Linked DNA regions of Homo sapiens: all the other regions are linked to region 3. The links come from fine-mapping of genetic effects on gene expression. A gene starts in region 3. Each other region holds a variant in brackets. All regions are shown on one strand. Distances are between the middles of the regions.

The links. PIP is the estimated chance that this variant, and not a neighbour inherited with it, causes the effect.
Region 1: its variant is the best candidate, but not a certain one, in a credible set for the expression of CCDC93 in tibial nerve (GTEx, PIP 0.60).
Region 2: its variant is the best candidate, but not a certain one, in a credible set for the expression of CCDC93 in whole blood (TOPMed, PIP 0.65).

Annotation. Positions count from the first base shown.
Region 1 is chr2:117,859,921-117,868,106 of GRCh38, forward strand. It overlaps the pseudogene HTR5BP. Among named protein-coding and RNA genes, the nearest start is that of DDX18, 49 kb to the left of the region's middle. The variant C/G (reference allele first, on the strand shown) is at 3,561.
Region 2 is chr2:118,071,861-118,080,046 of GRCh38, forward strand. The region is part of intron 1 of LOC107985940 (a long non-coding RNA gene); the gene reads right to left. Among named protein-coding and RNA genes, the nearest start is that of INSIG2, 13 kb to the right of the region's middle. The variant G/C (reference allele first, on the strand shown) is at 4,013.
Region 3 is chr2:118,009,955-118,018,139 of GRCh38, forward strand. It overlaps CCDC93 (CCC complex scaffolding subunit CCDC93), which reads right to left and starts at 4,116. Exons shown (of 24, transcript NM_019044.5): 1 at 4,000-4,116. The coding sequence starts at 4,041. It also overlaps the pseudogene RN7SL111P. RefSeq lists silencers at 3,604-3,653, 4,124-4,323.

The sequences.
Region 1 (8,186 bases), 150 kb before region 3:
CGCGACGGGGCCATCACACGGCACCTGCAGCACACGCTGCGCACCCGCAGCCGCGCCTCGTTGCTCATGATCGCGCTCGCCCGGGTGCCGTCGGCGCTCATCGCCCTCGCGCCGCTGCTCTTTGGCCGGGGCGAGGTGTGCGACGCTCGGCTCCAGCGCTGCCAGGTGAGCCGGGAACCCTCCTATGCCGCCTTCTCCACCCGCGGCGCCTTCCACCTGCCGCTTGGCGTGGTGCCGTTTGTCTACCGGAAGATCTACGAGGCGGCCAAGTTTCGTTTCGGCCGCCGCCGGAGAGCTGTGCTGCCGTTGCCGGCCACCATGCAGGTGAGGGGTGGGCTGAGGAACGTTGCTATGGGGAAGCGGTTGCTAGAGAAGGAGGCAGCTTCGCGAATGGGAGAGTGGGCGGAAGCTTGTACTAATGGAGCGCGCGCCCAGAGATCACCTGGGGCGCACGAGGACAAGTTTGCCATCAGTTCTTCTGAAGCGGGCACCGAGGGGCTTGTCACCGGCTCACCTGGCACGCAAGTGAGGGGTTCGCCAGCTGCGTACTTGGTGCGCGCAGAGGAAAGGGTTTCACAATCTGCACGTTAGGGAGGCAGATCTGACACCGACCCACGACGCACGATATGGCCGGAGGGGCTTGTAGGTTCAGCCCGTCTCAGTAGCGATGAGGGCACATCTTGTTACCTGCACTATCTGTTGTTTTCCCCCTCAAGGGCCCCTGTCCATGTGAGTCCTGGAGCCGCCGGCTTCCTTGTCCCAACTAGACCTAGAGGGGATGCAGTGGACTGGGAATTCGTCTTTCAGAAATTCCTGTGACCAATCACGCCTTATTTTCTGTCTCCACCGTACCCCAGTCTATCCTCTGCAGTTCAGAGACTATTCCCCAACTCCATTAGCCAGCACCCTGCCAAGGGGAATAGTGAGGATTTTAAAATATAATAATTGGTGTCACTTTGCTTTCCTTATCTCAACCCCGGAGCTATCCTCTAGTGATTTAGGAAAGAGAACCATGGATTCAAATCCCAGCTTGGGACATTAGGACAGTTGCTTAATATCTGTGGGTCTCATTTCTTCATCTTTAAACATGTTCATTCGTAATTGATAGGGCTCTTGGTGAGGATTACGTGAGATGAAGAATGTAAAGCACCTGGCATAGTGGCTGGCACACACTGGGTGGCAGACTGGCTGGAGAAAGAAGGGGTTCAACAGGATATTGCCTGGCAGTCCATAAGGAGGAGGAAGATAATGCTGGAAATGTAATGAGATGAGCAAAATTGCAGTCGGCAGATCTTCTCTCACCGTATTTATTATTCTGTCTGAAGCTTTCTGCCTTTTGGCCAGGATCTAATAGGTGCTCAGCATCCTTCTCACTCTGGAAGCCTCAACTTTCTCTTTTGAGGGTATCAGGTGTTTCAAGTAACATGCTCCCGGTCCTATAGATTAACAGGATTTATTGCCCTTTGCAAATACAATACATGGGTGAGGGAAGAGGTGCATATGAGAGCAAAAAGAGACAAGGAAAGTTTTTTGTTGCTAGTTTTGTTTTAATTTTGGAAAATTAACTCAGATACTTAGAATACAGGACAAATACATGTGATTTTTAAAGTAGGCCTTTTTTCTTCTACATTAAATGGCAGAGGAATTTTGCAGCATAAAATAGGAATGTCAAGACTATAACTGGAAGTGTTGGTGAGGGAGAGTTTTATTCAGAATTAATGATGTTCTTTGAAAGGTCCCTTGGAAATGCCTGGGGTGATTATAGCTTTTCTGTCTGATTGCCGAGCTAGGGCTGACTTTTAATAGCTACGTCAATCCAATGCGCACTTAGAGAAATCACGGTGAAATGGATGCCGGAAAACCTTGCCAAGCCTGATTTTAGTGTTCATTTTTGACAGTTCCCATTCAGGCAGGTGACACAGGGAAGAGGTGCCTGGATGAGAGGCTGGCCAATCTGGAGTGTCCATTGGTGGATAGAGAGAGCTCTGAGAGGAAGAGGAACTGTTAAAAATTTAGCCACTCCCGGCAGGAGGACCTGGGGCAAGCCCTTCCCCACTTTGGGCCTCAACTTCTCTAACATACAGTATTCTTCTAAGTCATGTCTAAGGGCCTTGAATCACAGGATGCTGAGATTGTAGATGGGGTAGTGTTCAGGAGCATGCTGCTTCTATGGGTCACAGCAAGCCCTCACTCAAACTTCTGGGTAATGTTCCTGAGTCCACGTTTGCAAGCCTTCTGGAAACAAGACATCTAAACAAAAGTGTAAAACACCGCGCCAGGAATACTTCCTCTCTACTTTCCCCCACCTGCATCATTCTACTCTCCAGGCGAAATGAGTTGTATTGTGTTTAGGCTCTGCAAAGTGTCTGTACTGTTTTCTGCAGGGAACAGGAGCCTATGTGAAGCCTGAAGGCCTCTGTTGATGAGGCTGTGTAAGACCTTCATCTTTTTCAGAATTCCGTGTCTAGGTCCCAACACTAACATATTATAAGACAGGGGTCTTATCAGAATGTAGTTTTTGGGCAATGATTAATCCTTTGGGGCAAAATGCAGTTTTTCAAAGTTGAGAAGGGAAAAAAATGTTTATTGAGTGAATTGTCTCTTCCAGACACATTTCTGATGCTTTACATTCACCCTTTCATTTCATTCTCACAATTCAGTAAAGTTGGCATTAAGTCTCTATTAGTCAGGATAAGCTAAGGCATGCTGTGGTAACATGTAACCCCAAACCAGAAGTTTATTTCACTCTGACTTAAAGTTCAATGTGGGTCTGCATACCTGCACAGCTCTCTTCCAGGCAGTCTCTCATGATTTTGGGCCATTTATCATTTTTAGCTATGCTGCCTTGCACATGTGCCTTCCAGATTTATTGTGGGAGAAGAGCTATGTATGGAGATATGCCAGCTTTTTACTGCCTTACCCTGAACTGGAAGCATGTCATCACTATTTGCAGCCCATTGGCCAGCCATTGGCAGTGAATTGGAAGGGAGCATGTAGCTATCTGGTGAGCACTGTCTTTGCCATAAGGCCCTCATTTTACAGATGAGAAAACTGCAAGAGAAAACTATGGTAAGGCACCACAAACCTAGTTCATCCAAAACCACGCAGTTCCTGGGTAGAGAGTCTGAAGGTTGTACCAGATCTAAGAATCACTATTTTTGGCCAGGTGCGGTGGCTCATGCCTGTAATCCCAGCACTTTGAGAGGCGGAGGCAGGCGGATCACGAGGTCAAGAAATCGAGACCATCCTGGCCAACATGGTGAAACCCCATCTCTACTAAAAATACAAAAATTAGCTGGGTGTGGTGGCACATGCCTGTAGTCCCAGCTACTCTGGAGGCTGAGGCAGGAGAATTGCTTGAACCCAGGAGGTGGAGGTTACGGTGATGCGAGATCGTGCCACTGCATTCCAGCCTGATGACAGAGCGAGACTCCGACTCAAAAAAGAAAAAAGAAATCACTGTTTTCATTACTCCATGCCATCTCCAGGGACTTGACTTCTGAGGCCTGCCCCTCTGCTCATGGGTGTCTCTGCTTGAGAGGAATGAGGCAGTCACAGCC[C/G]AGTCAAGGTGGGTCCCACGAAGCAGGATCTCAAAACTACTCAGGTGAACTCTCCTTTTCAGGAGAGCTGAACACAATTGAGCACAAAAGCCTTGCCTGCTTCCCTCAGGGGACAGGTTTAATTCCTGCCCTGGTGTCTTTTCTTTCAACATCTTAAACTGAGACTCTGAGCATCCCATGTACACTATAATCTGCTCCCCACCCCAAAGCAAGCCCCATGGGTTACGATTACTTCCTACTGCCCTGTGCCCTTCACTGTTTAGAAAAGAAGAAACATTATTTCTTTGGCTTTTAAAATGTGACATTAAAAGGGTTTTTTTTTTTTTTCCTATCTCTCTCTCTTTTCTTTGCTATTGCTTGTTTGATTTCTGTGTGCAATTTGATGCTGGGACCTAGTTATCCATCAGGCGTAGTAGTCATACTACTTAGAACCAGAATTCTTTTAGGGACCCATAGAAATATTTTAATTTTAATTTCTTTTAAAATTAGAGGAAAAATGAATATAACACTAATGAATATATTATAATGAATCCAGTCTTGCTTATACTTGCTTATACTAATGTTTAACATAATTTTCAGTATTTCTTAATGAAGGAAGGGATACATTAAGGCAAAGATGTCTAGGGACCACACAAATTATAATGAAGCCTTGGTTAATATCTTGCCCTCATTCTTTTTTTTAATCGTACTATTGCTTTCTTTTTAAAATTTTTAAATATATTTTTTAATAGCTTTGGGGCTACAAGTGGTTTTTGTTTACATGGATGAATTATATAGTGGTTAATTCTGAGACTTTAGTGCAATTGTCACCAGACTAGTGTCCCCTTCTAAGTCTCCAAAGTCCATTATATCACTCTGTGTGCCTTCCCATATATTCATAGCTTAGCTCCCACTTATAAGTGAGAACACATGGTATTTGGTTTTCCATTCCTGAGTTACTTCTCTCAGAATAATGGCCTCTAGCTTCATCCAAGTTGCTGCCAAAGACATTATTTTATTCCTTCTTATGGCCAAGTAGTATTCCATTATGTATATATACCACATTTTCTTTATCTACTCATTCGTCAATGGGCACTTAGGTTGGTTCCAAATCTTGGCAATTGTGAATTGGGTTCTTGCACTCATTCTTAATAAATATATATTGGGAGATAATGTACACAGTGGTTAAGAACATGGGACTTGGAAACAAAGAAACGTGGGTTTCAATTTTTTTGACTGCCACTTATTAGCACTTCAGCCAAGTGACTTAATCTACATCTGCAATTCTGCATATGTAAAATGGAAATATTACCACGTGTCTTTTAATATTCTTGTGAAGAGCAAATGAAATTCTATCATATGTGGAGTCCCTTAAGTAGTAAACCATAAATAATAGCTACCGCATTACTTTTGTTATTTTTCTATTTCTCTTTAATAAGAAAAGTATTATTTTATTTCTCTTATTGCTATTCCTCATAATCATAGGTAGATTATTTATTGCTTGTGTAGAAAATTATCCCACAGTTTAGTGGCTTAAAAGAACAAACATGTATTAATTCACAGTTTCTGTGGGTTGGGCATTCAGAATGGCTTAGCTGGGTGGTTCTGACTTGACATCTCTTTTGGCTGTAGGCAAGATGTTGCATGGGGCTGCAGTCATTCAAAAGCTTGACTGAGGCTGGAAACTTTGCTTCCAAGATGGAGCACTCACATGCCTGTTGACAAGAGGCTTCAGATCCTTGAGAAAAGGACATCTCCAAAGGGCTGCTTGGGTGGTACCACATGATAGCTGACTTTCCCCAGAGCAAGCCGTCCAAGAGAGTGAAGCAAGGAGGAAATTGCAGTGCCTTTTATGACTTAGTCTCAGAAGTCACATATGATTATTTTCTATTCATTAGCAGTGAGTCACTAAGTCCAGCTCACACTCAAGAAAAGAGGAATTAGGCTTCATCTTCGGGAGAAGTATTTCCCAAAACATATTGAATGTAGTGTTCAAAATTACTCGATTGACTTACTGATCTTATGTACCAGGCAATGTCCTCTGAGGTTTCAAAGAATGAATAAGCACTTTCCTGCTCCCAGTGGATTTTTAGTAGATTATAATTATAGAATTATAAATGCAATAAAGTCTTATAAGTGCTCTGCTAGAAATCTGTCCAAAGTACAATGGTATCTGAAAGATTTAATAGTGTATGGGAAAGCACTATGTAAACTGTGAAGGGCAAAGTAAATGTGAGGTATTGAGCTTTAGGGTTTATGGCAACTTGGAACATAGATTTTAGATTATGCTGTATTACAAAAATTTGACTTTCTAAGCCAGTCCTCTTTGTTGACGTTTTGTTTGAACAATGACACACTGCCATAAAGGTTATGTGCAGTAGGCCCCAAGTGACCCAAAATCTGTACAGAGCCATTTATGTTTATATATTTATTTTAAATTGACAAATAATAATTGTATATACTTATGGGATACAATCTAATTTTTAAAAATTTTGTATTTTTAATTTTTGTGGGTATACAGTAGATTTATATTTTTATAGGGCACATGAGATATTTTGATACAGGCATGCAATGTATAATAATCACATCAAGGTAAATGGGCTATCCATCACTTCAAACATTTATCCTTTTTTATGTTACAAACAATCCAGGCCAGGTGTGGTGGCTCACGCCTGTAATCCCAGCACTTTGGGAGGCCGAGGTGGCCGGATCACGAGGTCAAGAGATTGAGACCATCCTGGTCAACATGGTAAAACCCCATCTCTACTAAAAATACAAAAATTAGCTGGGTGTGGTGATGGGCGCCTATAGTTCCAGCTACTTGGGAGGCTGAGGCAGGATAATTGCTTGAACCTGGGAAGGCAGAGGTTGCAGTGAGCTGAGATTGTGCCACTGCACTCCAGCCTGGCAACAGAGTGAGACTCTGTCTCAAAAAAAAAAATACAATTATACTATTTTAGTTATTTTTAAATGTACAATAAATTATGTTTGACTATATTCACCCTATTGTACTATCAAATACTAGATCATATTCATTCTATCTAACTGTATTTTTGTACCCATGAACCCTTCCCTCTTACCCCCTCCCACTACCCTTCCTAGCTTCTGGTAACTATCATTCAACTCTCTATCTCCATGAGTTCAACTGTTTAAATTTTTAGCTCCCACAAATAAGTGAGAACATGTGAAGTGTGTCTTTCTGTGCCTGGTTTATTTCACTTAACATAATGACTTCCTGTCCCATCCATGCTGTTATGATGGGATATCATTGTTTATATGTATGTACCACATTTTCTTTATCCTTCATCTATGAATGGCCACTTAGGTTGTTTCCAAATCTTGGCTATTGTGACTAGCACTGCAGTAAACATGGGAGTGCAGATATCTCTTCTATATACTGATTTCCTCTCTTTTAGATACACAGCTGGCAGTGAGATTGCTGAGTGATATGGCAGCTCTATTTTTAGTGTTTTGAAGACCCTTCAAACAGTTCTCCATGGTGTCTGTACTAAGTTACATTCTCACCAACAGTGTACAAGGGTGCCCTTTTCTCCACTTCGTCACCAGCACTTGTAATTACCTATCTTTTGGATACAAGCCATCTTAACTAGGGTGAAATGATATCTTATTGTAGTTTTGATTTGCATTTCTCTGATGAGCAGTGATGTTGAGCACATTTTAGTACACCTGTTTGCTATTTGTCTTTTTTTGAGAAGTGTCTATTCAAATCTTTTACTCACTTTTTAATCAAATTATTTGATTTTTTCATATAGAATTATTTGAATCCCTTATATATTCTGGTTATTGAATCCCTTATATATTCTGGTTATTAATCCCTTGACAGATGGATGGTTCACAAATATTTTCTTCCATTCTATGGGTTGTCTCTTTGTTGATTGTTTCCTTTGCTGTGCAGAATCTTTTTAACTTGATGTGATCCTACTTGTCCATTTTTGCTTTGGTTGCCTGTACTTGTGGGGTATTACTTAAGAAACCTTTGCCAAATCCAGTGTTCTAAAGAGCTTCCCCAATATTTTCTTGTAGGAGTTTCATAGTTTGAGGTCTTAGATTTAAGTCTTTAATCCATGTTTAATTGATTTTTACATGTGACAAGAAGCAGGTGTCTAGTTTCATTCTTCTGCATACAGATATTCAGTTTTCCTAGCACCATTTATTGAAGAGACTGTCCTTTCCCCAGTGTATGTTCTTTGAACCTTTGTCAAAAATGAGTTTGCTGTAGATGTATGGATTTTTTTCTGGGTTCTCTATTTTGTTCTATTGGTCTTTGTGTCTGTTTTATGACAGTTCCATGCTGTTTGGGTTACTATAGCTTTGTAGCACAGTTTGAAGTCCGGTAATATAATTCCTCCAGTTTTGTTGTTTTTGCTTAGGACAGCTTAGGCTACTCTGGGTCTTTTGTGTTTTTATATAAATTTTAGGATTGTTTTTTCTATTTCTGTGAAGAATGTTATTGGTATTTTCATAGGGCTTGCATTGAATCTGTAGATTGCTTTAGGTAGTGTGAACATTTTAATAAGATTTATTCTTCCAATCAATGAACATGGAATACCTTTCCACTATATTGTATCATCTTCAATTTCTTTTTTTTTTTTTTTTGAGACAGAGTCTCACCCTGTTGCCCAGGCT
Region 2 (8,186 bases), 62 kb after region 3:
AGCACTTCATCAGCTATGTCTTTTGTCACTATGTGTATCCCTCTGTCCCCCAATTAACTACAAAAAGTCCCTAAGTCCAATTTTTAACTTCTTGGTTATGGTTGTACATCTTTTTCCTCAAAAGAATCTTTAGATATCAGGCAAAAGATTTTAAAAGCATTTTACAGTGTGAATCAATATCTCTTTAATTTTTCCACATGCAAAAACTTCATCTTCTCACTAATATTGTGACCCAAGGAAAAGATTGTCTTAGATTTCTTTGCCTTCCTACTGTGGCAACCTAGCTCTGAATAGAAATCAGCTAAAAAAAAGTGGTTATCTGAATGACCAATCTCTATATATAAAGATACCTTTTAAAAATAAATGTTTGGGCCAGGTGTGATGGCTCACACCTGTAATCCCAGCACTTTGAGAGGCTGAGGCGGGTAGATCACTGGAGGTCAGGAGTTCATGATCAGCCTGACCAACATGGCGAAACCCTGTCTCTACCAAAAATACAAAAATTAGCCAGGCGTGGTGGCACATGCCTGTAATCTCAGCTACTCGGGAGACTGAGGCAAGAGAAGCACTTGAACCCAGGAGGCGGAGGTTGCAGTGAGCTGAGATCACACCATTGCACAACAGCTTGGGCGACAGAGCGAAACTCCATCTCAAAAAATAAATAATTAAATAAATAATGTTGGGTTTCCATAATTATCTAATGTTTCATGAGAAATGGAAAGGTTTTCCCTAGTATATATGTCTTTTATTTGCCGCAAATCTGTTTTTCTCAACATCTTAGTCGTTGATATGATACAGTCAGCTATTTGGATGGAATTATCTCTCTACTTGCTATTTCTATGTTAGAGTTCCAATCCCTAGGAGTATTTAGACTATTTTTGTCACTACCTTTGCAATTTTAGTTTCATGTTTTGCAACATGAAAAACTTTGGAGACTCTTAAAATTAAGATTAACGCTGAGAATATTAACAGATGTATATACAAAATCTGCTATGAGTCCCCTACCAGGCTGAGAACTCTTCGAAGGCACAAACTGGATTTCTTTCCTTACTATAACCCATATGTAGCACCTTACTGTGTAGATATTTGCCATTTTTTACTCCCCTGCATAGCTGCAGATTTTTTAATAGGCCCTTGAGCCCTCTACACAGTTGACCCTGGAATGACACAGGTTTGAACTATGCCGGTCCACTTATATGCAAATTTTCCTCTCCCTCTGACACTCCTGACACAGTAAGACCAACCCCTTTTCTTTCTCCTCTTCCTCAGCCTCAACAATGTAGGATGAGGAGGATGAAGTCCTTTATAATGATCCACTTCCACTTAATGAATAGTAAATATATTTTCTCTTCTTTGCAATTAATATCATTTTTTTCTCTAGTTTACTTTATTGTAAGAATAAAATATATAATACATATATAAAATATGTGCTAAACAACTGTTTAATGTTATAAGTAAGGCTTCTGGTCAACAGTAAGCTATTGTAATAGTAGTTAAGTTTTGAGAGAATCAAAAGTTATGCATGGATTTTTGACTATGCGGGGAGCTGGTGCCCTTAACCCTGCATTGTGCAATGGTCACCTGCATTTGTTTTTTGTGTGTGGGGAGAGGAAGGCTAATATCTCCTACTGAACCATCTTGGTGATGTCACTGCTCTGTACCTAGCACCATATCTGGCCCACGGCGCTCACTGAATGTACTTGCTAATGTGACTTCTAAGACTCTAGACCTCTCAACAGCCTTATTAGACTGAAATTCTGAATATTCCTTTCCCATCAGGGATGAGCAGTGACAGTACCTGGCTGAGGCCAAGGAGAAAGAGGGCCAGGAATTTCTTCTTACCCTGCTTTTGAGCATGCAAACTCTCCCTTGGGATATAAAGCATGCAAGTGTCTTGTCCCTCAGCTCTGGACACACTTACCTCTAGCCTGTGATTTAGGGATGCAAGAAGATAAGCAGTGGGAAAAGGAATTTCTCTAGTGAGTATGAAAAGAATTAAAGATCAAGAATATATTGCCAGCTCCCTATGTATCCCACCCACCTCAGTCATCAGCCAGACACAGCATGTGAAACAATCCCTCTGCCTCTGCACCTCTAAGCCCTGCCATACATATTCTCTAAAGGGACACCATGTTTGAACACCATGTGTGGCTCCTGGGGTGAGCAAACCCATGACACACATGCTCAGACAATGTCCATGAGCTCCACCAACCTCTAGGAAGAGTGTGGTGATGGACTGTGCTCACATATTATTTGGTGAGTGTGTGGTGAGGGGGTGGTTGGGGATAGCCAGGGCCAAATAGGCTCAGTGTTTCAGGAGAGGCAAGCACAAATACTGGATCCCATTATTTCCTGGAGAGACTGTGAGGACCCCAGAAGAACTTTGGTTTACACAGTGGGGGCAGCTGTTGCCTCAATGCCAATGGTAATTTCTTCAGTGGAGATAGTGAGACAGAGTCCTAATTGTAGAGGGAATTCTCCATCCCTTTCTCAGACTACATAAAAGATACAGTGCCAAAGCCTGCTGGCTGTTATCATTGTGTGACTGCTGGCATGCCTGAACTTGGTATTGTTTTAGCAATTATCTCTCAGAGAAAGGAGGTAACATTTGTTAAGAGAGGAGAACAGATTACCCGGTGGCTTCATTTAGAACAGTCTTCCAGATAATATCAGAAGTAGAGCACGCCTTCTTGCTAGAATATGAAAGAAAAGAAAGCAGCTGAATCAATTGGGAAGCTGAATAACTGAACAACATCCCATATAATTACTGGAGCAGCAAAGAAATGCCTATGTTAGTTATTTGCAACACTTCTTGCTTCAAAAAAAGAGAAGCTTAAAAACATCAATAAAGACAGATGTAAAATCTCTGTTTCAAGACTCCCAGTTGACACTGATAGATTCCTACTGAAAAAAAAGATGTTTCCAAAAAGTAAAATAAAATCTTACTGCAAATATAGTAAAATTGCAAAGGAGGGGAGAAAAGTAGCCTCAGATCTGTGAGAAATGTCAATCTGCAAAGTCCATTATCCAAAGACCTTGTACATCAATACTAGATTTGAATTATGGAGCTGAGTTGCGCCTTCATTTAGACGGTGTTTCCCCAAGTAGCCAGATAATATCAATATCTTGCATTTATATGATGATCATCTTCCCAGATGGCTTCATTAAATTGTATGTTTTATGAGACCCACTTTCTGAAATGTGGTCATCTCTGAATGAGAATGATGCTCCTGGGTAACTTGGGGCAAGGGAAAAATCGTGTTTTGCATTTATGCTGTCTTTCTATCAGTGATCATAAAAATCTTCAGTTAGCAAGCATTTCCTGAGCATCTGCATGGGCAGAGCCCGAGACGAGGCTCTGTGTGGTAACATACAGAAGATTAAAAGGTGTGGTCCCAACCCTCCAATACCTCAGTCTCCATTAAGAACAATTTTTCTGTTTCACAAATGTGAAAACTTGTGGCCAGACAAGTTTAGAGAATTGGAGAAGATGATGTAGTAAATTTGTTCCAGAGATAGGAGCCCTCATTTCTAGGATTGGGTCTACATGGTTTTGAGAATAACATCTAAAAATATTTAAAATATGTCAAACCTGCATTTAAGTGTTAACACTTTGGTTTTTGTTAAGGGAGAAAAGACTAGTTCCCAATTAGGAAAATGAAAAAGGGTCTGTTACGTTGTCAATATGAATTTGTAAATATTTCTAAATATCTAAGTCTTGTGGTAATTGTAGTGGAGGGACAAAAGGAGGGCAGGCTTCCAACTCTGAAGAATTTGGCTGATTTTAGAAGTAAAATCATTGCTGATATGTGGTAATTTCAAAGAAATAAGAAGTCTCCCTTGTGCCTTGAATGAAGATTCACTTTGTTGGCTTATTTCTTCCTACCTTGTAAAATTGCTAGTACTCTAGGAGAAGTCCCACATTCAGCCAACCCAGAAAAATGTCTGGCACACAGCAAACACTCCATGAACAATTATGAGGAATTCACGCTGTGTAGATGAGTTTCTCATA[G/C]CCTTTCCTAAGAACCTAGATTTTAATGGGTTTGGAAGTAGGGTGGGGTGGGGAGAGGTCAGAGGTAATAGGTGCCAAGGAAGGAAAGAAGAAATAAACAAGAGTGAAAAGGATAGCCTAGGGGATGGGGAAAACTTGTCTTTTTAATCTTGTTTAGGGACCATGGTGTGCAATGTACTGTATATCTAGAGATACGGAGATATAAGACTAGTATACTTAAAATACCTGCAAGCTCAGAGATTAGAAATCCCAACTCTAATTCTGATCGATTTGGGATTTGGGGCAAGTCACTTCACTATACCTGGGCTACAGATATTCCATCTGTTAAGGATATAGACTAGATAATCTCTAAGATCAATTTCTGTTACATAGGATTCTGTTATTCTAGCTATATGAGAATATCGGAGCATTTGAAACAGGAAGTAGACGAGTTGTTCTGATGCTTACTTATCTAGATGGAGAGAAGAGACAACATTAAAATCCAAAGGCTAATGATCCTTTCTTAATGTAAGTCTAGTCTACCAATCAAAATATATTGGATTCTATACTGTCAACCATAAAAGACCTCAGCCAACTTCGGATGAATTTGGGTAATGGAAGATTCATCTCTGTTCTAAAATTCTATACTTTTTTTCCTTCTTAAATTAGAATTTTTTTAAAGAAATGTCTAACTTGTGGCTCTATCAGTTGGTAATAAAGCTTTTAAATGTTTACTTAAAAATTAAACGTTATCTCCAAAATATTCTACATTTCAAAAACCTTTCCCACGAAATAAAAATGCTAGATTATGTATTAAAATTACAGGTGCTGCAGGAATTCAGAAAGTAGAAAGATCCTTGTGGTCAATAGGTAACCAAGAAAACCTTCAAAGTAAAAATGAGGTTCAAAGTTGGGCCCTGAGGGAATTTAAGACTGGGATTTTTGGAGAAGGGGGCTTTCCAGATTTAAGAGGATCTTCCAAAGAGCAGGGCTTTCCAAATGCACACAGATGAACTATTCTGCTTGAGGATGAAGTTTTCACTGCTCCATGACTACTAACAAAACTAAAGGGCAATGTAGTCAGTATGTCCAATAACTAAATCAAAGCAATTAAAGGACTACCCCTTATTCTGAGACAGTGTCCTTCCTTGTTTTAGTGTTAAAACATCCTTTTATAAATGATAGTGGTAGTAGATAATAGTTGTTTTCTTCTTATTATTTTTTTAGACGGTGTCTCTCTGTCGCCCAGGCTGGAGGACAGTAGAGTGAAAGTGCAACCTCCGCCTCCCGGATTCAAGCAATTCTCCTGCCTCAGCCTCCCAAGTAGCTGGGATTACAGGCGCCTGCCACCATGCCCAGCTAATTTTTGTATTTTTAGTAAAGATGGGGTTTCACCATGTTGGTCAGGATGCTTTGAACTCTGACCTCAAGTGATCTGCCTGCCTCGGCCTCCCGAAGTGCTAGGAGTACAGGCGTGAGCCAGATGTTTTCATTTTGAAGTGATGGCATCAAATTTGTCTTCCATATGATGGTCTCTCTTGTTCTCTCTTTCTCTTCCTTTGAGATTTTGCTGGCCAATGAAATCTAAAGATCTGTGGACTACCAGGTAGGCGAGTATTTCTAAAATGTTTCCTTCATTGTAGCCTTTATCCATGTACACCAAGAAGTCAAGCACAGCTTTCTAGCAAGAGAAAGAACCATTTAATTTTAGAATTTTGTTTTGCTGTTCTTGTGATACTGTCATGGTAGTAAATGCTGGTCAGGCTTAGCTGTGATGTTGATAGAGTCAAGCTTAATATGCCAGACCTAGGATGTGTTTCAGGCCTTTCGGTGATATAGCATCCTAGAAAACAACATCTGCTCCGTTTTCAACTTTTACTTGGTTTCCAACCTACATTCCACGTTGGCAGCAGATCAGCTGCTAAACTGTTTACCAAAGTCCTTGCTTTGTAGAGATTAAATAAACGATTTCATAATTCTCTCTCATTCCATTGATGTAGAGTGACTAGATCATTAGATTTGCAGTATAAGCATGCCAAGTTTCTTTCTCAGAAGCCAATCTTGGGCATTCAAAGTACTGCTTGCCTCCTGGACACAGGGTATTCCCGCCCCTCTAAGCCACCAGGTATATACTCGTTTCCCTCTGGAGGAAACTATGAGGACACAGTGTTTTAGAACAAAACGTTATGGTCTTCCATTTCCACAGTTGCCCTTCTATCTCCTGGTCTCTTACTAAGGAGTACAGGGGAACTTTTCATTATGGTAATAGGGCTTGTGCTCTGAGAAGAGATAATGAGCTTTCTATATTTTTAATTGGCAAATTGTATATGCGTTTTTATTAGCTCACTATGATCGCTGAGCTGATATGGGGAAAAAAATGGAAACACAAACTCTGATTACATTTATTTCAACCGAGAGATGAAGGAAACAAAGGTCCAGATTGGGTACTAACTGGCTCAAGGTCACCTAGCTAGTTAGCTGAAGTACAAGGACTTGAAGTTGATCTAATGTTCTCTCTCCTACCTCCCTCCAATACCCCATCGGAATTGAAATCATTGCAATAGCCACTGCCAAGTACTTAACAATGGATATTTGATCGTGGTCCTTTAGGTCTGTACCAGGGTGGTTTTCAGTTTTTTACTTCATCAGCACAGGAAGGCAAGGACATCGCACTGACTCTCATATTTCATCCTTAGCTCTCGATTCCCTTGGTTTTACATTTCTGACTCTTCCTTCAGTTTCTTGTAGGGCTTTATGATTTAATTTAATTTCAGCTTATGGCTGGCTTTGGTACCCAGAAGAGTGGTAATTTGTCCTTTAAATTATTCACCCAGGGGAGTCGGTGTTCTTAGAAAACGAGGCGGGGAGAACCTATAAGCTTCATCCCAGCAGAGGGACATATGACACACACTGATGCCTCACTCACTTGTTCTTCTCCCACAATACCTTATCTCCCATGTTCAGCCTTGGTTCCTATAATACCTTGTATTTCTGCAGAGCTTTTCACATTAACAAATAAAGCAATTTACAGCATATTTATACACTGACTAGTGACTAATTATACACCTGCAAGCACTGCAATCATTCCAGACAAGCAACATTCCTCTACATTAGCTTCCCTGTAGGAAGGTGTCTTAGAGCTATTTGCAGAGAGAATTTGGGGCAACAGTCAGTCTCGGCTCTGACACTCAATTGTTGAATGTGGGGGCAGTTATATAATCTAGGATGCACCTCTAGACATTTTAGCTCGGAGCTGAGCTAGGGGCTAGAAAGATTACGAAAGAAAAGAAAGAGTGGATGAATCTGACCCTAGTAGAACTCACTAAAATTGTTGATAAAACCAGGCAAGGCCAGGCACAGTGGCTCACGCATTTAATCCCAGCACTTTGGGAGGCCGAGGCGGGCAGATAATGAGGTCAGGAGATCGAGACCATCCTAGCCAACATGGTGAAATCCCATCTCTACTAATAATACAAAAATTAGCTAGGAGTGGTATCATGTGCCTGTAGTTCTAGCTACTTGGGAGGCCGAGGCAGGAGAATTGCTTGAACCAGGGAGTCAGAGGTTGCAGTGAGCCAAGATTGCACCACTGCACTCCAGCCTGGTGACAGAGCGAGACTCCGTCTAAAACACAAACAAAAAACCAAAAACCAGGCAGAAACATATGCAACAACTCACAAAGAAAACGACATTACAAAATCACCTGCCAGGGTGTTTGGTATGTTTTAGGTGGAACTGAAGCACGGAATGGAGGAGACTATTGCAGTTGTCAATTAAAAAGATAAGAGATGAATATTGGTAAGAGCTACCATTTAATGAGTGCCTACTATGTATTTATATTTCCTCAATACCACTGTCATTTAATCCCCTCATAATCTCCAATTATCACATAAAATTAATTGAAGTTCAAAGATGTAAAATAATGTTCTCAAGATTAAACAGATATTAAGGGAGAGCAGGAATTAAAACCCAGGTCTGTCTGACTCTTAACCACTCCATTATACCCTCTTCAGCCTAAGAAAGGGATGGCAAGCATTAACAAGATGCGAATATCTAGTGTGTAAAAGTGGATTGTACAGAGAGAATAAGAAAAGGATTAGTAGAATCCATTTAAAGGGGTGCTAAGAAAAGAAATTAAATATTTTCAAAGTTTAAGTTTTGGCAATACAGTGGGGTGGAAGCAATGGAGGAGCTC
Region 3 (8,185 bases):
CGCTCTGTCACCCTGGCTGGAGCACGGTGGCGCAATCTCGGCTCACTGTACTCGGATCCCAGAGAGAACCTCCACCTCCTAGGTTCAAGCGATTCTCCTGCCTCAGCTTCCCGAGTTGCTGGGACTACAGGCACATGCCACCACGCCCGTTTTTTTGTTTGTTTGTTTGTTTTTGTATTTTTAGTAGAGATGGGGTTTCACCGTGTTAGCCAGGATAGTTTCGATCTCCTGACCTCATGATCCACCCGCCTCAGCCTCCCAAAGTGCTGGGATTACAGGCATGAGCCATCGCGCCTGGCCGTATCTCAGCATTTTGATTTAAAATTTTTAATTTATATCCTCCTTTTACCCCAATCTTTATCTAATACTTAAATCCATCTAAATATTCTAATACTCTTTCATCTATTTACTATCATGAACTACCTTTCCTCTCTTCCTTTGCTACCAAAAATAAAAAACCATCTCTCTATATAAAACACCAATAAGATATCCTGGTTCACATGCTCATAATCATCTCTGAGTCCTCCCTTACCCAACAATGCCTGTTAAGTCTTCCTTTACTATGCATCTCACATTTATCTTCCCTTCCCTTTCATTCATACTTCATTCCAGAACTCTTGCAAATGCTTCTTCATCTTTCTTCCTTTAATTTGTTTTGCTCATCCCTTCCTAAATCACAGCTTTCATGTTATCCCTCTTTAGCTCACCCTCCCAGCCCTTATCAACAATGCACCACACACACTGCCTGTAAGATAAACTCCAGATGTCTGGTTTCACATTCAGATCTTTGGCCACCAAACTATCTTTTCAGGTTCATCCTTTAACTACCCCAAAAACAATCAAGACAAGGCCATGGCTATATTCTCTAACCACTGAGAAATCACTTTCAAATTCCAGCTCCCATGCAACACCATCCCTCACAAGTCTATCCTGAAATGGCCACTCTCCTCAGCATTTCTGTACATATAACTAAGTATCAACTATATACTGTACATATAACTAAGTATCAACCTCTTCAAAGTGAGATATCTAGTGTTATACACATGCTTGTCTTTGCAACTGGACTACTGATTGATTAACGAGAGGACTATATATTATATACTTGGGTTTACTCCTCTGAATCCAAACAACATTAAGCTCCAAGGACACACTTATTAAATAAAGAATGATCTACTAATGCTTACATAAAGTAAGTGAACCTAAACCAGTCATGTATTAATAAAATGTTTCAGTGATCACATCCCTGACAATGGAAAGTTTATTTTGATGTATAAACTGCCAGGAAAGGGAGTATACATATTAAAATATAGTTAATACAGAATTATTAAAGTGACTGATAATCCCCTGCAATAGAGTAGGAGTGGCGTGGGGGAGGTGACAGCACTGAGCTACATCCGTCTCTGAAATGACCCTGGTCCAGTCCATTAAGGATCCTGAAGATCAGCATTCACTAGTTCCTAGTGGACATAAAAATTTTCTTAAGTAATATAAATAATTCACACCTTCTCTCCCTTCTGCAAAAAATCTGGGATGGTTGAGAAACGTCTACAAGTGAAAACACTCTAAGAAAAGAGAAGCTAAAGAGTAGTTGTAGTTCAAGTCAGCAGAAAAAGAAAATGAGATAATATAAGTACTTTCTTAAAACTTCTGGGGTGTAAAACAGGAACACTTCATTTGTTCAATCATTTATTATGAAAACATGAGAAGAAGACAAAAAAAACCAAAAAAAAATAGGATCATCACTGCCTCAACACCTATCTAATGGACACCCACTGGCCACCCCACCACAGATGCAGGGCCCAGGCTTCCATCCACTCACCCCTAGCATGGAGAAGTTTACTTTTGCAATATAACTTGTGAAGTAATTTTGGCACAAGACACTAAATGGGAATGTATGACTCCAAATTCACTTAGCAGATTAACACTGAAATCAAATGGAAAAGGGCCACTGTCTGATCTGCTGGGAATGAAAGACCCTCTCTTGAAGCAATAAAAATCCACCAGGCTGGTTAATACATCCAGTTGTTGAAGCTAAATTTCTGACAAAGACAAACAACAATGAGCTCTTACACAAAGCCCAATAAACTTTCAATTTCCGTCCACTATAGTTGTTGTAAGCTGGAAGGCAGGCCAAGTCTAGCTATCTTTGTAAAGGGTTAAAAAGAATGAATTCGGGCAGGGCAGTGGCTCACATCTGCAATCCCAGCTACTGGGAAGCCTGAGGCATAAGAATTGCTTGAACCTGGGAGGCAGAGGTTGCAATGAACCGAGCTCACGCCATTGCACTCCAGCCTCGGTGACAGAGTGAGACTCTGTCTCAAAAAAAAAAAAAAGAATGAATTTAATGAATTAACTGGTCTAGTGACATCCTAATAACACAGACTATCCATATTTATATTTACTAGCTTCTGAACTAAATGATGATAAGTTATTGCTTGACCTGGTGAGTGTGGCCTCTTAGCAGTCAGTGAAAGTTTAAACGAAGGACATACAGCAGCAGGTTGCTCTTCATTAATTAATTTATTTATTTTCCCCCCAGAAAGACCTCCACTGATAGTACTGTGGAATATTGGGTTGGACGGATTTAAAGTAGAACGTGGGAGACCAGACAGAAGTCTACAGCAAAAGGCCAGGCAAAAACTTGATGAGAGCCTAGAATACAGAAGTGGCAAAAAAGAAAACTTCAAATGTCACAGTACAAATCCTATTGTTCACTATCCTGGGTCCCATCCCAGGCAACGTGCATGTAAGATTTTACCTAATACAGGGGTTCTGACAACATTATGCTTGTCAGGTTTTCTTAAGACAACAAAATGGACTTGCATTCGGGGAGCACACACTGACAAACAAATCTGTCCTTTCAGACTATATATATTCCCAGCTTCTGGACACAGAACACAGTGATCCCTCAATTAGTGGATACTTGTGATATGAAAGAACTGAGGATTTGGGAGGAATGCAGAGGAGTAACATTGGTCACTGGCAGGTAAGTGTGAAGGGACGACTCACCACGTCAAGCAAGCAGTCACCCTGCCCAATGCCTGCTCCAGAACCTTAGGAAAAAGGCAGAGGTGCGGCGTGGCTTCCATTTCTCTCCAGAATCCAGTAAACTAGACTAGCCTTTGAGTAAAATCAACTGAAAGGGACGACAGATGCAAACTACCTATGAGATGCTAAGTGGTATTTGCAGCCAAAAGAAAATGAATACACTTTCCCTGTATTCCCAGCAAACGTGGAAATCCGCAAACCACTCATGACCCCCTCCCTAGCACTAAGTGAGTACTTAACAAACACCTTTGGAAAAGAACCCCGCCCTCTTCTGGAGAAGCCGCAGCCTTTCCGCCCAGAGCCGGGTCCCCCGCCACACAGCACCCCTGGAGTGCGTCCCACCCCGAACGCCCCGGCGCGCTGACCCAGCGGGACACCTCCCTGGTGCGCGCAAGTCTCCCAAACTTCCTCCCGCCGCCCCGGCCCGGGTCCACGCAAGGAGGGTGGCATTCCCTCCCGACAGCAAGGCGGGTGGGGCGGGCCGCCGGGACTCTGCGGGGTGGCGGTAGACGTCCCAAGGTCACCACCCGAGCCCGAACCGCCTCGGAGAGCGGTCTCGTGACTCCAGCGCCCAGCAGCCTCGGCCCTCGGGGCTAGCCCTGCGGCGCGGGGTGGGGGAGCCCGTCCCGGACAGGGAGAAAGGTGGGAGCCCAGGACCCCGCGGCGCGTGGGGCTGCGTCAGAGCAGGTGTCGGGCTAGGAAGGCCACCTGCGCCCCAAGAGACCCGGGAGCGGCTTAAGTTTGTCCTCACCCGCCCGCCGCCCCCTGCCCATGCAGGGGTACCTGCTCCCCGCCTCCAAGAAGAGGGTCGGCGCTTCCCTGAGGTGGATACGCCTGAGGAAGGGGGCGGGGCGCCCCTAACGCACCCAGGGCCCGCTCAGCCCGCCGCCCCGCGGCTCGGCCCTCTCTTCAGGAACCCCGACGTGTCAGGGAAGGAGGAGGCGTTCTTACCTCCGGGAGACCCTGGCCCTCCGGCCCCCTGGGCAACCCCATGATCCGACCGGGCTGTCGTAAGGCGAGAGCGAAGCCCGCCAAGCGTCCGGAGGAAGCTGTCCCTGCCGCGGAGCTGCTACCGGGGTGGAGTACAAAGCGGAAACTCCCTCTGCCGCCGCCGCCGCCGCCGCCGCCGCCTGCCCGAAGCGCCGCAGCCGGGCAGAGCATGCGCGCTGGGGCCGGAGCGCGGCGCCACTGCGCCTGCGCCACAGCAGCCCGGGGAGAGGTGGGCTGGGCTGCAGGTCCTGGCGTTGTGCTGGATCATCGCGCCCGTACTCTGAAGTTTTCTCCGTGGCGCTCTTTGAGAGGGGTTCCTCCTGCATCTTGAGAATATTTTGCATTTCGGCTCCCTTCTCTTCTCGCTGCCATCGGATGCCCCAAATAGGTCCTGTCCCCTCGGTGAATCAGACTTCGGAAACCGCCTCGCTTCAGGGTCAGAGTCCAAGTACAGATGAGCTTGAGGATTCTGAATGCACGCCCGGCTCTAGACCTTACAGACACACGCTTGGACAGACTTCTCCATATACGACCCAGGAACGGACCCCTTGAGAAGGGATTCTTCAAGCCCGCTGCCCTCTCCAGCGTCCTGGCCAGTGGCATCGCGTTCCCAGGAAACCTCGCTTCAGATATTGCCCACCACCCCGCCCTATTCACGGTTCCTGGGTCTTCCTGGAGGAATGACATCTCAGAGAATGCGGACTCCTATGTTCATGTCATTTGAGCCGCCGCGTCCCTTATTTGATGTACCCCTTGTTGGTCCCGGAGGATGGCAACTAGACAAAAGGTCACAGGCCCCCACACCCGCTCCATAACGGCTTCTTGGCTTTTTGTTTCTTTTAAGCAATGAGGAAAGAGATGACTTTCGTGAAAACTTTTGCTGGAGAAGAGATCCTTCCCTCTGTATATGTGTGTGGGATGGGAAGTGTCAGACTCAGACCTTTAGTTCCTTGAGATCAAAAAGGTTTCGTGTTTGCTTTCGTCTCTTCTTTGCATCCCTAGCGTCTTTAAAAGAGTAGGCAGGCGCGGTGGCACATGCCTGTAATCCCAGCACTTTGGGGGTCGAGGCGGGAGTATCACTTGAACCTAGGAGTTGGAGACCAACCTGGGCAACATAGTGAGACCTCCATCTCTACAAAAAATAAGAAAATTAGCCCGGTGCCAGTGGTCCCAGCTAGCCGGTAGGCTGAGGTGGGAGAATTGCTTGAGCCAGGAAGGTTGAGGTTGCAGTGAGCTATGATAACACCACTGCACTCCTGCTTGGGTGACAGAGCAAGACCCTGTCTAAAAACTATATATATATACGTGTATATATATATATGTGTGTATATATATATACGTGTATATATGTGTGTATATATATACGTGTATATATATATGATGTTTTCTATTTTATTTTATTTTTGCACCTTTTGTACTCCTCCTGGAGTTCATCCTGACAGACAGAGGTTTGTCTGGAGCCAGAGCTCACAAATAGTTGGAACTGCCCTAAGGATGCCATTTTGTTCTTAAATATAACTAGCAAATATTACTCAAAGCTGTGCACGATCCCCAAACCCTGGTCCCCAATAATTTGAATAATCTGAATATGCAAGTTAAGGTATTGAGATGGGAACCCTCCTGTGTGGTATATCTTGCTCTTATCCTTTGTGAAGCCAATAAACTTCAATTTCTACTCTCATAACTTCCCAAATGTGTTGTTTTTGTAGTTTTAAAACTGTCATTCACTGAAATGGTATAGGTTGATGGGGAATGGAGAGTGATAATAATTTGTGGCCACTGTTGAGTGACCAGACAGGTACTGATGCCTAGGAACAGGTAGTAAGATCTCACATAGCAGGCAAGCCTAAACAGCTGTATATAATAGCAGCCTGGAGAATAACAGGACTCAGGCCACACCCTGAGTTCCCTGTTATAATGCTTTTGCAATGTTTTAAATAAGCATGAGTAGCTAACTTCCTCAGTAAGAAACTGTCCTTCCCGAGCGCGGTGGCTCATGTCTGTAATCCCAGCACTTTGAGAGGCCGAGGCGGGTGGATCACCTGAGATTGGGAGTTCGAGACCAGCCTGACCAACATGGAGAAATGCCGTCTCTACTAAAAATACAAAATTAGCCGGGCGTGGCAGCGCATGCCTGTAATCCCAGCTACTTGGTAGGCTGAGGCAGGAGAATCACTTGAACTGGGAAGGCGGAGGTTGCGGTGAGCTGAGATTGTGCCACTGCACTCCAGCCTGGGCAACAAGAGTGAAACTCTGTCTAAAAAAAAAAAAAGAAACTGTCCTATGTTACAACAGGTGTAGAGTGACAGTAACAGAGTTGAGGGGCATGGGGCATGCTTAAAAAAAAAAATCTCAGCAAAACAGCCATAATATCGTCAAGAAAGTTTGAACAGGGCTAGGTGGCACCTGCTTATGTCCCAGCAACTCGGGAGGCTGAGGCAGGAAAATCGCTTGAGCCCAGGAGTTCTGGGCTTTAGTAAGCTATGCCAATCAGAGATCTGCACTAAGTTTGGTATCAATACAGTGACCTCCAGGGAGCAAGGTTGCCTAAGGAGTGGTGAACTGGCCCAGGTCAGAAACAGAGCAGGTTAAAACTTCTGTGCTGATCAGTAGTGGGATCATGACCATGAATAGCCACTGCACTTAAGCCTGGGCAATATAGCAAGACACTGTCTCTTAAAAAAGAAAAAGAAAGTTTAAGCAGCCCATATTTGAGAGCAGAAACCCTTCACAGTCTTGAAGAAGACCTTTAACAGCCAATGCAGACAAGGAGGCTTGTGAGGAATCTCTCAGATCAATCCATCTCTCTCCCTTTCCCTTCACTCCAGGCACCCTCACAAATTGTGTCTCCCAAGTGTGATATCTGAGGACTAGAAATCAGTCATTCTGTCTCTCTTCTGTACACTGAGTACAGAGTTGTGTGATGTTCCTCTTTGGAGCCTCACAAATACTTTCCAGTTCGTGGGTAAAGAGGTACCATAGTGATATAGTTTGGATATTTGTCCCACCCAGATCTCATGTCAAAATGTAATAGCCAGTGTTGGAGGTGGGGCCTGGTGGGAGGTGATTGGCTCGTTGGGGTGGATTTTTTGTGAATGGTTTAGCAACATCCTCTTGGTGCTGTCTTCCTGACACTGAGTCACTCATCACGAGATCTGGCTGTTTAAAAGTGTGGCACTTATCCTCTCTAGCTCTTGCTTTCACCATGTGACATGCCTGCTCTCCTTTCACCTTCCACCATGATTGTAATCTTCCTAAAGCCTCCCCAGAAGCCAAGCAGATGCCGGCGCCATGCTTTCTGTAAAGCCTGTAGAACTGTGAGTTAATTAAACCTCTTCTTTATAAATTACCCAGTCTCAGGTATTTCTTTATAGCAATGGGAGAATGGCCTAATACACATAGTAAAGAGCTTCCTGTTAGGCTTAGCTTTGTTCTGGAGGAAGTTTTCTTTCTTTTTTTTCTTTTTTTTTTTTTTTGAGACGGAGTCTCGCTCTGTCACCCAGGCTGGAGTGCAGTGGTGCGATCTCGGCTCACTGCAAGCTCCGCCTCCCGGGTTCACGCCATTCTCCTGCCTCAGCCTCCCGAGTAGCTGGGACTACAGGCGCCCGCCACCACGCCCGGCTAATTTTTTGTATTTCTACTAGAGGCGGGGTTTCACTGTGTTAGCCAGGATGGTCTCGATCTCCTGACCTCGTGATCCGCCCACCTCGGCCTTCCAAAGTGCTAGGATTCCAGGCGTGAGCCACCGCTCCCAGCCGGAAGTTTTCTATAAAGCTTTAATTATTCTGTCTTCAGGCTTCTCTCATTCCTTCTACATGTAGTGCAACAATGGGTGTTCAGTAAAGTAGAGTGACACAGCGAGGTCACACAGCACATTAGAGGGAGTGCTAGAACCAGAGCCCCAAATTTCTCATTCCCCATGTTCTTTTGCTCACCCATCCAACCATCCATCCATCCATCCATCCATCCAACAAATATTGCTGAGTTTCTTCTATGTCAGTAGCTCTCAAACTTGGCTGCACATTGGAATCACCTGGATTCCACCCTTAGCAATCCTGATTTAATTGGGCTAGGGAGAGGCATGAATATTGAATTTTTTGCCTTGGAACATATTGTTTTATATACAACACAGTAGTGAATAGTGACT